Linked DNA regions of Homo sapiens. The protein of the gene in region 1 interacts with the protein of each later gene in a pairwise test. Each region holds a gene or a part of one and is shown in the gene's direction. Other genes may lie near its edges.

Region 1 (7,028 bases):
TTTGGTAATGATCATTCTTTAGAAACTGACAAATGCATGCATTTTTGGTATTTTCTTATAGCATTCTTACACTTGGAAATGATACTATGAAAGAAATACACGAACTGATATACAGTAAAGTGCTATGCCCCAAGATGTTTCTACTTTGTGAAAAGTACTTTATTGCATCTTAAAATGTTGTAGAAAGTAGACATTGCAATACATTTTTCAAAAACTTTCTGTGCATTCAGATTTTTGTGAGGGTATATTCCTTTAAAAGGAACAACAAGGCGTTATACTCATGATTGAGCTGATATTAAACTCCAGTGGTTATCTGTTTTTGTAGAGGTTTGGACTTGGGTAATTTTCTTCTGGAAAGATTATTTTTCTTCTGACCAATTTCTCCTGTTATGTCCTAATTGGTTACATAAATCTTGTCTGGTATGAATGAGAAATGTTTCTGTGTTGTCAAGTGTAATCTTCACCCTTATTTACCAATTCATTAAGATCTATTGATGCAGGACTGGTGAGAGGGAATGACAACATAAATCAGCCCTCCAACATAATGACCCTAATCAGCTAGAAATAACTGGAAACGTCATGATGAGCTATGTCTCTGTATTACTTCGGCAAGATTCTGTGGCTAGCGAGGTTTGTGTCTGCTTCGATCATTAACTTTACATCCACTCACCTTCTTCTAAAGAAGTTGTAGTGACTCTTGTTAGTATTACAAAGTTCTTTTTCTCAGACATTTGAATCTTTAGGAACCATAGAAGAAAAAAAGAAAGAGAAAAGGAAACTCACAGAACAGACGTCATGAAGGCTAATTAAAGCAGAAAAGAAACAAAGCTATTGTAGTGTTTTAAAGAACTTTCTGGTGATGATTGAAGCTGTGGGTTCAAAAAAAAAAGCTATACAGAAGGTCAATGGCTTTTTTTTATGAGAACCTGTCGATCGCAAAGGATTCAGGCGTATATCTTTCATGTTTAGTTAAACTGAGGCAAATGTTTTAAGTATACTTATAAGAATGATGTGGCTATTTCAATAAACCCAGGTGCCTCCAATCTGCCTTCTGATTCTTCTGTAAGAACTCATAATGACTTTCTTCTAAATTGGAATAACAGTGTGTTTCCTAGAGCTCTAACTGAAAGACTAGTAATTAAAATAAAACTGACAAATGATAATGTAAAATTTTTCTGTCTAAATGCATTAAATTGTAATGCTAAACACACACTCTTCTCAGTTGCTTTTATCAACTGGCTATATTTTTCCTGCATTTTGCCTGTATTATTAAATGCTAAGTTACAGAATACATCTATGCTAACTGACTGTGCATATAAAGGCAATTGTTATAGGTATATGTATGTCAAGTATATGCATGTATATACATATGTAGTATGTCAAATTTTGATAATCTATGTGTATTAAATATATACTTTATGACATACTGTTATTGGCATTTTCTATTGTTTGGCAGCAATAGTGAATTCATCCAAAATAGGTGGATTTCATTTTACATAGGACAAGAAATACTTGCAAACAGCAAGTTTAGGTTTGAAATTTGACGGAAAGGTTTATGCCATGTTTTGATATTCTGATGTGTGCTAACATTTAAAACAGTTTAAAATAGTTACATGTTGTGTGTTAATACAGGTGTTTTTGGAGTAGGTCTGCTTCATAGTCACTTGTTTTATACACACTTGATGCCAGAGTATAAATTACCCTACATCCCTCACAGTTATTTATCCTTATAGCATACTTGCTATTTAGATCAGACCATGGTATGAGTGTGACTCATGCTAACATTAGTGGAAGCTAAGTATAAAAATGTTTATTCTAATGCCTAAAATAAAGTTCAATCTCAAGAATAACGTATAAACTATTTTGAAACTATGCCGTCAAAAAACCTCTGTGACAGGTCGCTTACATACACATAGACACACACACACACACACACACACACACACACACCCCAGAAAGGACAAAAGCAGTTTCCTGACCAGATTCTAAAACTCCATTCAACACAATCATGTGGTTACATTAAAATTCTGGCCTTACCATTGCATCCACCTGCTAGGCTCATGTTGGACTTTTGCACTAAGTTGAGACCGGTGGAAGAAATTTCTCTAAGCGTACCGCCTATGCTGTGGGTCTTCCAATGGGAAGGCAAGAGGTGGGTCTGCTGAGGAGCAGTATTAAAGGGACATTTGGCACCCAAAAGATAGCCTGGAAGTAAAAAGTGCTGAAAGGGCAAGAGAATGAGGATCCGTGGAAGAGCTGTATTATGCTCAGGAAAAACAGCAAGGGATCCCAGGGAGTTGCTGTGGGCGGGAGACTGAAGATTGAAGTAAAGTAAGCCTGAGGGTTAAGGAAAGATATGTGGCAGGAAAGGTGAAAATGCCATCACAAGAGAAGTACATACTCAGAGCTCTCATTAGCCAGGGGATCAGTGAAGGCTATTGCAAGTAGTCCAGCCTTTGGGAATTTGACTGTAAGTGGACCCACTGCATGGAAGCTTGCAAGCTTGCACAACTCAATCACTAAGCTTTTTAAATAAAAAAGAGGGAGGTTTTGCCTGCTAGGCAGGTCTTTCTATGTTCTTGGAGAGCTAATTATTTCTTATTGCCTTACATTTTTACTGTTAAATTCTGTTTCCTAAACGAAAATATTCCTGGTTGCAGGATTTGACAATTTTTCTTCTTCAGGCAAAGACAAGAAAATCTGTGACAGAATATACTTGCTTACCTGGTGTCTTGTAAACTGTAGCCAGTATTTATTTTTGTATTGGCAACTAGGTAACATTCTTTAGTTTTTAAGTCCTCCTCTTACATATCTAAGACATACAGTTAGATAGGATAACACATTGCAAAAAATATTACATTTTGGCATTATAAATTAATGAAAACTCAATTTGTCAGAGGTTATAAAGTAGCAGGGTGAAATAAACTTTCCCTAAGCTTCCTATCCCCCTTGTTTTGAAAAAATAAATATTAATGCTATAAAGGATTGATTTTAAAACATTTAAATGATTTAATGAATTAAACTAACATTAAAATTTATATATTTAAAAGGAAGACTGACAATTTAGCATGTACCTTGAAAAGTAAAAATTGGTGTACATTTTTACATGTTTGAGAAATAAATATATACAGAAATTATATGAATGTGAAGACAAGATGTTAGAATATGAAGATTAATGTGAAAATATAATTTTGAAATATATTTTTGAGTAATTAGTTAACCAGAATTATCAATATAGTATTATAAAATCTCTTTCAATTATACTTCTGAAGGGGGCTTCTGAACTATAGATACAGAATCATAATGTTGCAGTAAAATACATCTACATGGCCACCATTCTTTCAAATTCTTCATTGCACTTTAAGTGAAATAGCATAGGGATTAAATACTTAATTTTAGTATTTTATAATATTTTCATAATTAAATATTTATGTTTTGTTTCCATTTTAAACTTATTTTATTTTTTATCCAGGAGCAAAATATAATATACTTAGTTGCTAAGTTAATTAATAGCTGATTGAAATGGAAGATAAGTTTTTCATTGGCTTTACTTATGTTTCCTAGATTTTGTTATTGTTGAAGATCTAACAGTATTATCTTTGCTAAAATGTAGTCATTATCATTTAAAAAATATTTTGTTAAAATGTCCTTCTACTTTGCATGTTTGAAATATTAACCTTTTTGAATGAAAGTCTGAATTTTTACTAAAGTGTTTTTTTTTCTAATTTGTGTATAGCATTTTAGGCATTTTGTTTAAATAAGTAAAAAGTAGTAACAAATACTTAATAAACAAGTTAATTTTAATTTACTTAAAATTATGTCACTTGGTATAGTAAAAATATCACTTGCTATAACAGATAACCTTCCCCAAATCATGTTTTAAAAGACATCCTGCTTCAGTTTTTAAAAATTGAAAATATTCATGTGCTGTTTCAATTTTTGTTCTTACACATTCAACTATATCCTTCATATTTGGCATTTTGATTTATTAGGCAATCTTAGCATTAAAGACTTTTAGCAAAGCAGTGCTGGATCTCAAATGCACTATGCATGGTGCCTATGATGAATTAATTCCACTAGAGCACAAGAGTTATCATTATTTAAACGCTAGTTTCTTTCAGAAGTTTTAAATCACAGTCAAGTTTTCAAAATTAGAACTTAACTAATATTTTGAGGTAAACGTATGAGGTTTCTTGTTACATATGTTAAGTTTTCTTAATATTTAACTCTTTCTTGTGTGAATCTGCATAGAAATATTTAATATTTGATATTGATAATTGATCAAAGATTAAGGAGGTATTTAAGAATATATGTTTTAAATTTGATGCCTTACTTTTCTTAAAATGTCATATTCAAAACTATTTGGATTTAATGCATATGTTTGATTAAATAAATTGGACACTGGAATGAATCAGATATTAGACATAAAGTGTCTTTCAAGGTCACTGTAATCATTTTGTTTAAGAAAAGTTGACGAAATGAATTGTTAGAAATGTTTTATATGTACTGTTATTTGTTCTTAGTTTTCTGGGAAGTCATTTTTTTTTCATCCATTTGTTTTGATTAAATAGTAAGACTCCTCCACCAAAATGAGAGTTAATATTAAGGCACTAAGATTATAAGACAGACTGTTTATGTAGAATGCAGAGTGTGGTTCAAAGTAGAGGCTATTTTTATCTTCTTTATAATCCCTGACATACATAGACAGATTGATTGATCTATCTTTATAAACATATATAGATACACATATTCATGTGCACACATATACACATGGGAATGTGGAGTGGAAAAGAGATAGGGAGCATAAGAAACAGGGAAGGAGAAGAGATGAGAAAGAAGACCATAGAGAAAGTTGAGTAAGCAACAAGGACCAGTAGTGTCCCTGGTGGTGGCTGAGATAACACAATTAACTATGCTTGTCCAGGTCAAGTTTCAAACTTTTAAACATTGCTGCGAATACGGAATAGGATACATGCAGGTTTCTGTTATCACTCTGGCATGTAACTATCTCACATGATACAGTTTTATACCAATAGAACATATAACTCTACGAGGAAGAAATAAAACCAACAAGTCTAGCATTCAGTACTACCCTATCATAAAGTAAGGAGGCCTAATTGAGCTATGTCTTTATATCCTGCTATTTGTACAAATAAAAGACTACATCTTGATGCAAAATAAACACAAAAGCACTGTTGTGACTATAACAGGGAGTCATATACTAATTTATATAATAAGTGGTTGTGCACGCTTTATTCAAGATTATGGCTGCAAGAAATGGCATGAATTGCTGGGTGTGTTTAATGCTGGATTATAGCAATTTGAAACATGTCAAACACATGGCTAATGCCTCATGCTTCACTCATTCTTGCGTAAACCTGCATAGCCACCATCCATTATACCCTTGGTAACAACACAATTCTGCAAGTAAATATTGTTACACTAAGTAACCTTTCAATTCAAGTTGTTTAGGAAGAGAAAATGCAATCTTGTGCAGTCAGTTCCAGTGTCAGTTTAATGTTTCAAAAGGGAAGTGGTGTAGAGAATAAGTATCTGTACAGTGACTTGCTTAAAAAAGAAGAAAGAAAAAGGAAAGGAAGGAAAACTTAATGCAGGGGAGAAAAGTCTAACTGTATCGTTTGAGTGTAAGATCTGAAGAGTTATTTTCTGATGTGGCTGAAAAGTTGTGTACGATGAAAGACTTAAGGGTTTAACTTACAGTTCAGACAAACATTAAAACAGGGACTCCCAGATTCATCTTTCCCTTTAATGATCTGGAATTTATTTTCACTGATTTTTGTAAAATGTTTGTGGTGGGATTGATAAGAATGAATAATTTAGCTTGGTATGTTTCGGATCATAAGCACATCCACTCTGAAAGAATATGCTGAATTTATTATTATTTAAAATATACTTAAAAGGTAAACAGCACTTCACATTGTGCTGGAAATATTTCCTATATTGGGAAATAAGTGGAAGTGTTACCAAGAGAAACTTAGTAAATGCTAGAAATAATCTGCATTGTCCTTGAAAAATTCCTCCTTTATAGTGAACATACTCCAAGCTTTTTTAAGTGAAATGTACAGTATAATCATCTAATTACACAATCACCCTTCTTTTTTCATATAAGTGTTGTATCAGATACTCCTCTTTTGTAGAGCAAAAAGTACTATCACTGTTATAGTTTTCTTAAGCATTATTTTACTAACTCTTAGATGATTGAACTTAAAATGTAAATAACAGTTTATACTGTAGGGTTTTATAAAGTTAAAAACTCCACAAGGGCTAAGAATAAAATCCTTTAGTTAAAAGGAATTATAAGTTATTTAGGTCTTTCTTCGTAATTGTAATAAAGATTTAGACACATGCCTCTTTGCTTGTTGATTATTCTTAATTATTTGATGGCCTTGATTATGACACAGTAATACATGTAGAATTCTTTAATTCATCCAATTGGTCCTGAGATTTACTACACAAAGGTTAGTAGTAAATGCTGCACCTGTCTGCTACACTGGAAAATATAGTGTTTTATTTTTATTCCTTGTGTTGCTAACTCCATCCAGAAACAATAAATATTTCAAATAACTTAGGTGATGAAATAAAAACATACACATATATACACATATTCCAGACATGTTCTCAAAAGTAAAATTTAAATGCAATATGTAAAAGTTATGCCTATCTGTTTCTACAGTTGGAGAGGATTGAAATTATAATTTTCATATAACTAGTAAAGGCAATCAGACCTTTTCTCTGAATATTTTAAACATTGTGCATGTAAAATTTATGCCTAATTTGAATACTTATTAGCTGCCTAATCTCAGAAAAGAGTATTAGCTTTGTTTTTTTCTTATAAAATCCATCACTATGTATCAGTTTTAATTTATATGATTTTTTCTTTGTTAATGTTCAATAAGATGTTTAGCAAAACCTATTTGTTTATAAACACATTTCGCTCAAAAATTGTTTACTATAGTTACAGCAATTATTTCCTTTCTGCTCATGTTTTCTGTTGTTTTTTTATTATC
Region 2 (7,028 bases), on another chromosome or scaffold:
GAGGTGGCCAGGATTTCTAAAGACTCTTCTTTTGGGAGTTTTAATTTGGGCTTTGAACTAGAACAGATTAAAATCTACTTTAAAAAAAAATTCTCTCTTTCCTTTAGAAAACAAGCAGATTTCCCCGTGCATTTTATTCTTGGCAAGCTTTGGCATCTAAAAAAAAATTTCTCTCTCTCTCTCTTTTTTTCATCTCAGAACTGATGGCTGAAATGAACAAACATCACTGTTCTGGGAGATCAAAAGAACATACACATTCATATATGTGAAAACTACAATAAATCAAATTACTGAGGGCTATGGATTGAGCTTTCTAGCACTTGAACCACTTCTGATTTTTCAAGTTTGCAAAAACAGATTTTAGTGGCTGATTTGACTACTAGGAGTGATAGGGGTTTTTGTGTTTGTTTCTTTTTTTTACTTAAATGATAATATCAGAAATTAAAACATGCTTTTAAATCCAACCTGATTTTAAGATGCAACTTGTGGTTTCTCAGGTTGTGAGTCAGAAGCGACAAACGTTTTAAAATATAAAATACTTAAAATAGTCAACATTTAGTGATGAATTCAAGTTCTCCTTAAAGATTTTTGTCTGAACAAGTGCATTGTGTGTAACAAGCATTTTTAAAATGTGAGTTTGAACAAATTTAGAAAACACAGGAGAGCTAATTGAAAGCAGTTCTTTGGCTATAGGTATCATTAATTTAAACATGTTCCTCATAACTTTCATGATACTTTCTCTTTTTTTCCTTTCCACTCAATCCCTCAAATTTTTCAGTTAGGAAAACCTTGCTATTTAATAAATTGTAGGCCTTAAGCCCCTGTAAAAGTGGCAGATGATATATTCTCAAACACCCAGTCTTCACGTATAAAAGGTGAGATAACATTCATTTTTTTTCTTTGCCAGATTACACAACTGAAAATAGATCACAACCCTTTTGCAAAAGGATTTCGGGATAATTATGACACGTAAGTAACTTTGTATCTTCCTTTTCAAATAGCTGTGGAATTGGGCTTTAGGTCAAAGGTGTATTATTATGTACAAGGATTTTGAAAGCTGGAATGTGTGAAGACAAGGTTGTTTTAGAGGACTTCTTCTTCTTCGTCTTTCTTCTTTCTTCTTCCTCTTCTTTTTTTTTTTTTTTTTTTTTTTGGTTGGCTCCCCTTCTCTCTGGTGACCTTGTGGCTTGGTACTTGCGTGGTTTTTGGTCAGAGGTTTCCTCCACCTAATTTTAACTTTCCTGTGGATTACAAAGTTGTTGGTGGGCCTCTGGGGCTGGCTGGCTGGCTGGGGAGGCTGCCCTGGTTCTCGGGTGCGAGTACTGTATGTGGCGCTGCAGATGCTCAGCTCAGATTGTCTATGTCTGTCTGAAACGGGCAATTCTGCCTAAAAGTGCATGTGGCTCCTCTGGCAGTTGTTAACAGTCTCCTTAGCATATGCGACCTTTATTTACCCATTTCCAAGTTTTGTATAATAGCATTTCCTGTGCAAGTTGGCTACGGACTGAATACAAATGTGCACCCACCACAGGCGAGTTCATGAGCAGAACCGCTGTTATGGTCATTTTAGGCTTTCGGAAAGATTCAGACGGTGTTGCTGTGTATTATTTATAAGCTTCAAAAGAAAAATATTTCCTCTTTGTTTTGTATCTAGGTGTGTTTTAATTAAACATGCTGGTGCCCTTTTCTTTAGGCCTCCCTTACCTCCCTCCTTTCTATCAAAAGGCTGTTCTCTGGGGCCAACAGTAGGTGTAAACTGAATGCTTTCTGGGCTTGTTCTGCAATTCTCACTCAGGGTCCATAGTGCCTAAGAGTTCAGATAGTGTCATAAATCTAAATCTGGATTGTGGGGTTCCCCCACGTTTTCTGACCATAAAAGGAAAGGGTACATACATCTTAATTTCGTGGCTTACATTGAGCGCCTGAGACAGAGCTAAAAAGTTGAAGCTGCCTTTGACTAGCATAGATTAAATGTGTGGAGAAAGAGACAAGTGACTGCCTCTATTCCATCTCCAAGCAGATACCAACCATCCCTCCTGATATTTTCTAATAATTTAAAAGAGAGTCATTGATATTACTGCCTATAACCACCATATATATTCTTCAAAAGTACTCCAAAGGAACCAAGTCTCATCAATATGATTCCCCAGAATAAAAACTTGGCTACTCTATTCCTCACAATCTAAAAAGGTGTGCCCAGCACAGTGGAAAGTATATGGCTCAAGAGACTAGAGATGTTAGAGGAGAGTCCTGTAGATTTTGAGATTTTAATTCTGTTGTGAACATCTGTTCAAAAGCATTTTATTTTGCACAAATCAATTCAGTAATCCCAAGTGGGTGGGACCTGGATAGGCATCTAAACTGTATCTTTTGCGGACTGCTTTTTTCTTTTTAAAATATTGTGGTGATAAACAGAGAAGATATTTGCACCTTGCTAGTTATGTTCCCTTCCTGCCTCCCTCTACTTCTCTTATTTGAAACTGGAATTCAATTTCAGAAGGGAAATTTTGTGCACTAAACAGAACGGACCTGAGCAGCCACAGCAAAACTCTCACATGCCCCTCCTCCTCTGGCTGCCTTCTGTTGGAAAAGCCACTCCTCTTTGATCTTAAATCACTTTAAATCTTTCATAAAAGCTTCTTTATCTATACACACACACACACACACACACACACACAAACCTGAGATTTTTAGGGGACAGAGAAGAGTTGAGTGGTTCATGACACTCTTCCTTTCCCCTTTTACGTTGGTTACTTGGACATGGCTCAATTTTGGAGAAAGAGGGAGAAGTATAAGGGTTCATGGGGTACTAGGAGCTTGCTTGGCCACTCACCAGGGAATCTCCTCCCCAAAGGATTAAGGTCTGACAAGACTGAGGCTCTCCTTCAAAACAGTCTGTTGACTAAAGATTAAAACATTTATGTGTGAGCTAAATAAAAAGGGAGGCATGTGTGCATGTGTATGAGAAAACACTTCTACCAATCTTCATCCAACCCTTGGTTTCCTCTCAATTCTAATGGGATTTTCTAGGCCCAGGGCCTAAAGTTAATCTTTGATTATTTTATCTAAGGTAATTCCCAACAACACAATCACTGTCGCTGGTTGGGCAAGTTATTTAACTTCCTTTTGCCTCAATTTCCTCATCGGTAAAGTGGGATAATAAAAGTTACCTAGCTCACAGTGCCTGGCATATAGTCGAGCTCCGTAAAGGTTAGCTATTATTAGTGGTCCATTGCATGGAGTAGGCTGATAAGTACACTGTAGGTTTGCCCCGAAGTTTCTGCGGGTAACGGACCAAAAGCTAGGAAAAGAAGGTCAGAGTAAAGAACACCTTTTCTCTTAAGAGAATATTTCTGATTGATGACTACTGTTTCAGAGTAGTAATTCTTGTTTGTATTAGTAGAGGTGGGAGTGAAAGTTTCACACAGGGGAAACAATAGACACTAAGTACTTTGGAGGCTTCCAGCAGCAAACCTCGGGTTCCAGAACACGGGTGAAGGCCAGTCTTTCATGATTACTGCGTGCGCGGCTTTTTCCTAGGGGTTTCTGAAACAATCTAGAAAAAGGAGAGATATCACCTGAACAATCAAATGGACACAGGAGGTCTTAAAAGGGTGGAGGAGTGAGTACCTTGCTTAGAAATTTCACTCATAAACTGACCGCAGAGGAAAGGCCCACTGGGCAAAGAGCATCTTACTCCCTAGGTAAATCTGCCTTAATGTGCACACATATGTTGGAGAAGTGGGATGAAAGTCCTTGCTTGTGCCCCTCTCTCAGTACCCCAGTACACTTGACGAGAGAGAGCAAGAGAAGAGGGAAGTCGTTCCCTTGATGGTCTGTATCTTGCTCAGGTCCCTGCATAGACAGATTGGCTCCTCTATAATTCCGTGATTTATTTTGGGAATGATAGAGGTCTGTGGCCTCTTGTATTCTCCAGGAAATCCTGGACTGCAAGTTTGTAGATGGAGGGTGTGGGGGTGGGCGAAAAGTGGAGGTGGCCTTCCCTTCTGCCCCCACCCCCACCCCAAGGGACCTCCGCGCCACCCCTCGGCTCTCTCTCTCTCTCTCCCTACCCCGCAGGATCTACACCGGCTGTGACATGGACCGCCTGACCCCCTCGCCCAACGACTCGCCGCGCTCGCAGATCGTGCCCGGGGCCCGCTACGCCATGGCCGGCTCTTTCCTGCAGGACCAGTTCGTGAGCAACTACGCCAAGGCCCGCTTCCACCCGGGCGCGGGCGCGGGCCCCGGGCCGGGTACGGACCGCAGCGTGCCGCACACCAACGGGCTGCTGTCGCCGCAGCAGGCCGAGGACCCGGGCGCGCCCTCGCCGCAACGCTGGTTTGTGACGCCGGCCAACAACCGGCTGGACTTCGCGGCCTCGGCCTATGACACGGCCACGGACTTCGCGGGCAACGCGGCCACGCTGCTCTCTTACGCGGCGGCGGGCGTGAAGGCGCTGCCGCTGCAGGCTGCAGGCTGCACTGGCCGCCCGCTCGGCTACTACGCCGACCCGTCGGGCTGGGGCGCCCGCAGTCCCCCGCAGTACTGCGGCACCAAGTCGGGCTCGGTGCTGCCCTGCTGGCCCAACAGCGCCGCGGCCGCCGCGCGCATGGCCGGCGCCAATCCCTACCTGGGCGAGGAGGCCGAGGGCCTGGCCGCCGAGCGCTCGCCGCTGCCGCCCGGCGCCGCCGAGGACGCCAAGCCCAAGGACCTGTCCGATTCCAGCTGGATCGAGACGCCCTCCTCGATCAAGTCCATCGACTCCAGCGACTCGGGGATTTACGAGCAGGCCAAGCGGAGGCGGATCTCGCCGGCCGACACGCCCGTGTCCGAGAGTTCGTCCCCGCTCAAGAGCGAGGTGCTGGCCCAGCGGGACTGCGAGAAGAACTGCGCCAAGGACATTAGCGGCTACTATGGCTTCTACTCGCACAGCTAGGCCGCCCCTGCCCGCCCGGCCCCGCCGCGGCCCGGACCCCCAGCCAGCCCCTCACAGCTCTTCCCCAGCTCCGCCTCCCCACACTCCTCCTTGCGCACCCACTCATTTTATTTGACCCTCGATGGCCGTCTGCAGCGAATAAGTGCAGGTCTCCGAGCGTGATTTTAACCTTTTTTGCACAGCAGTCTCTGCAATTAGCTCACCGACCTTCAACTTTGCTGTAAACCTTTTGGTTTTCCTACTTACTCTTCTTCTGTGGAGTTATCCTCCTACAATTCCCCTCCCCCTCGTCTTTCTCTTACCTCCTACTTCTCTTTCTTGTAATGAAACTCTTCACCTTTAGGAGACCTGGGCAGTCCTGTCAGGCAGCAGCGATTCCGACCCGCCAAGTCTCGGCCTCCACATTAACCATAGGATGTTGACTCTAGAACCTGGACCCACCCAGCGCGTCCTTTCTTATCCCCGAGTGGATGGATGGATGGATGGATGGTAGGGATGTTAATAATTTTAGTGGAACAAAGCCTGTGAAATGATTGTACATAGTGTTAATTTATTGTAACGAATGGCTAGTTTTTATTCTCGTCAAGGCACAAAACCAGTTCATGCTTAACCTTTTTTTCCTTTCCTTTCTTTGCTTTTCTTTCTCTCCTCTCATACTTTCTCTTCTCTCTCTTTTAATTTTCTTGTGAGATAATATTCTAAGAGGCTCTAGAAACATGAAATACTCAGTAGTGATGGGTTTCCCACTTCTCCTCAATCCGTTGCATGAAATAATTACTATGTGCCCTAATGCACACAAATAGCTAAGGAGAATCCACCCAAACACCTTTAAAGGATAGGTGTCTGTTCATAGGCAAGTCGATTAAGTGGCATGATGCCTGCAAAGCAAAGTCAACTGGAGTTGTATGTTCCCCCCACCTTCTAAATAGAATAGCTCGACATCAGCAATATTATTTTGCCTTATTTGTTTTTCCCCAAAGTGCCAAATCCATTACTGGTCTGTGCAGGTGCCAAATATGCTGACAAACTGTTTCTGAATATCTTTCAGTACCCCTTCACCTTTATATGCTGTAAATCTTTGTAATGAATACTCTATTAATGATATAGATGACTGAATTGTTGGTAACTATAGTGTAGTCTAGTGAAGATGAATTGTGTGAGTTGTATATTTTACTGCATTTTAGTTTTGAAAATGACTTCCCCACCACCTAGAAACAGCTGAAATTTGACTTCCTTGGGAGAACACTAGCATTAATGCAAGTAAGACTGATTTTCCCCTAAGTCTTGTTATATTTGATAAGGAGCATTAATCCCCCTGGAAATAGATTAGTAGGATTTCTAATGTTGTGTAGCAAACCTATACTTTTTTGTATTTAAAAATTAATGTGAAATATGCATCATACACAATATTCAATCTAGATTCCAGTCCATGGGGGGATTTTTCCTAATAGGAATTCAGGGTCTAAACGTGTGTATATTTTGGCTCTTCTGTAAATCTAATGTTGTGATTTTTATATTTGTTTCGTTTTGTCTGTGAACTGAATAATTTATACAAGAACACACTCCATTGAGAAACGTTTTGTTTTTTGCTCGTTTGTATCGTCTGTGTATAACAAGTAAAATAAACCTGGTAAAAACGCTAACTATGGTGTTTGAAAGCAGTTTACAGTTTGAAAATAATTTAATTATTATAGGTGATGATATTTAAGGGTTAAGGAAGACTAGCCCGTCCCCACTCCAATATGGGCAGCCTGTTTAATGGAAGCCACCTCCCATTCCCCCCTTAAATTTGTTTTATAGTACTTCCAGGAGCTACTTTTTTCTTCTTATTTATAATTATTTAGCTACCTATGAGCCAAGTCTCACTTTTCTGCGCTCATTTTCTTTTTTCAGGAAAACATATGCACTTTTCTCATCATATTTATCTGATTCTCTCTGAAGTTGGAAATAATGCGAACAGGAAAAGGAGGTTCTTTAAATAAGGAGTTAAGAATTTCTTTAAATTTCACAGAGTAAGGCGGGAGGCGTTGGCCAAAAGTAGGGTGTAATTTAAATGCATGTCAAAATAGGATGTTGACCGCAGATTTAG

The links. Proteins that work in one complex are often made in the same cells at the same time.
Region 2: the proteins of FOXP2 (region 1) and TBR1 interact in a two-hybrid assay, tested with the Homo sapiens proteins (2 studies listed by BioGRID and IntAct, with this or other methods).

What each region holds. Positions count from the first base shown.
Region 1 is NC_000007.14:114,417,798-114,424,825, forward strand, and holds part of FOXP2 (forkhead box protein P2), read left to right. Parts: intron 1-7,028. UniProt on the Homo sapiens protein: Transcriptional repressor that may play a role in the specification and differentiation of lung epithelium. May also play a role in developing neural, gastrointestinal and cardiovascular tissues.
Region 2 is NC_000002.12:161,419,289-161,426,316, forward strand, and holds the end of TBR1 (T-box brain protein 1), read left to right. Parts: intron 1-907; coding exon 908-969; intron 970-4,080; coding exon 4,081-4,939; 3' UTR 4,940-6,582; downstream 6,583-7,028. UniProt on the Homo sapiens protein: Transcriptional repressor involved in multiple aspects of cortical development, including neuronal migration, laminar and areal identity, and axonal projection.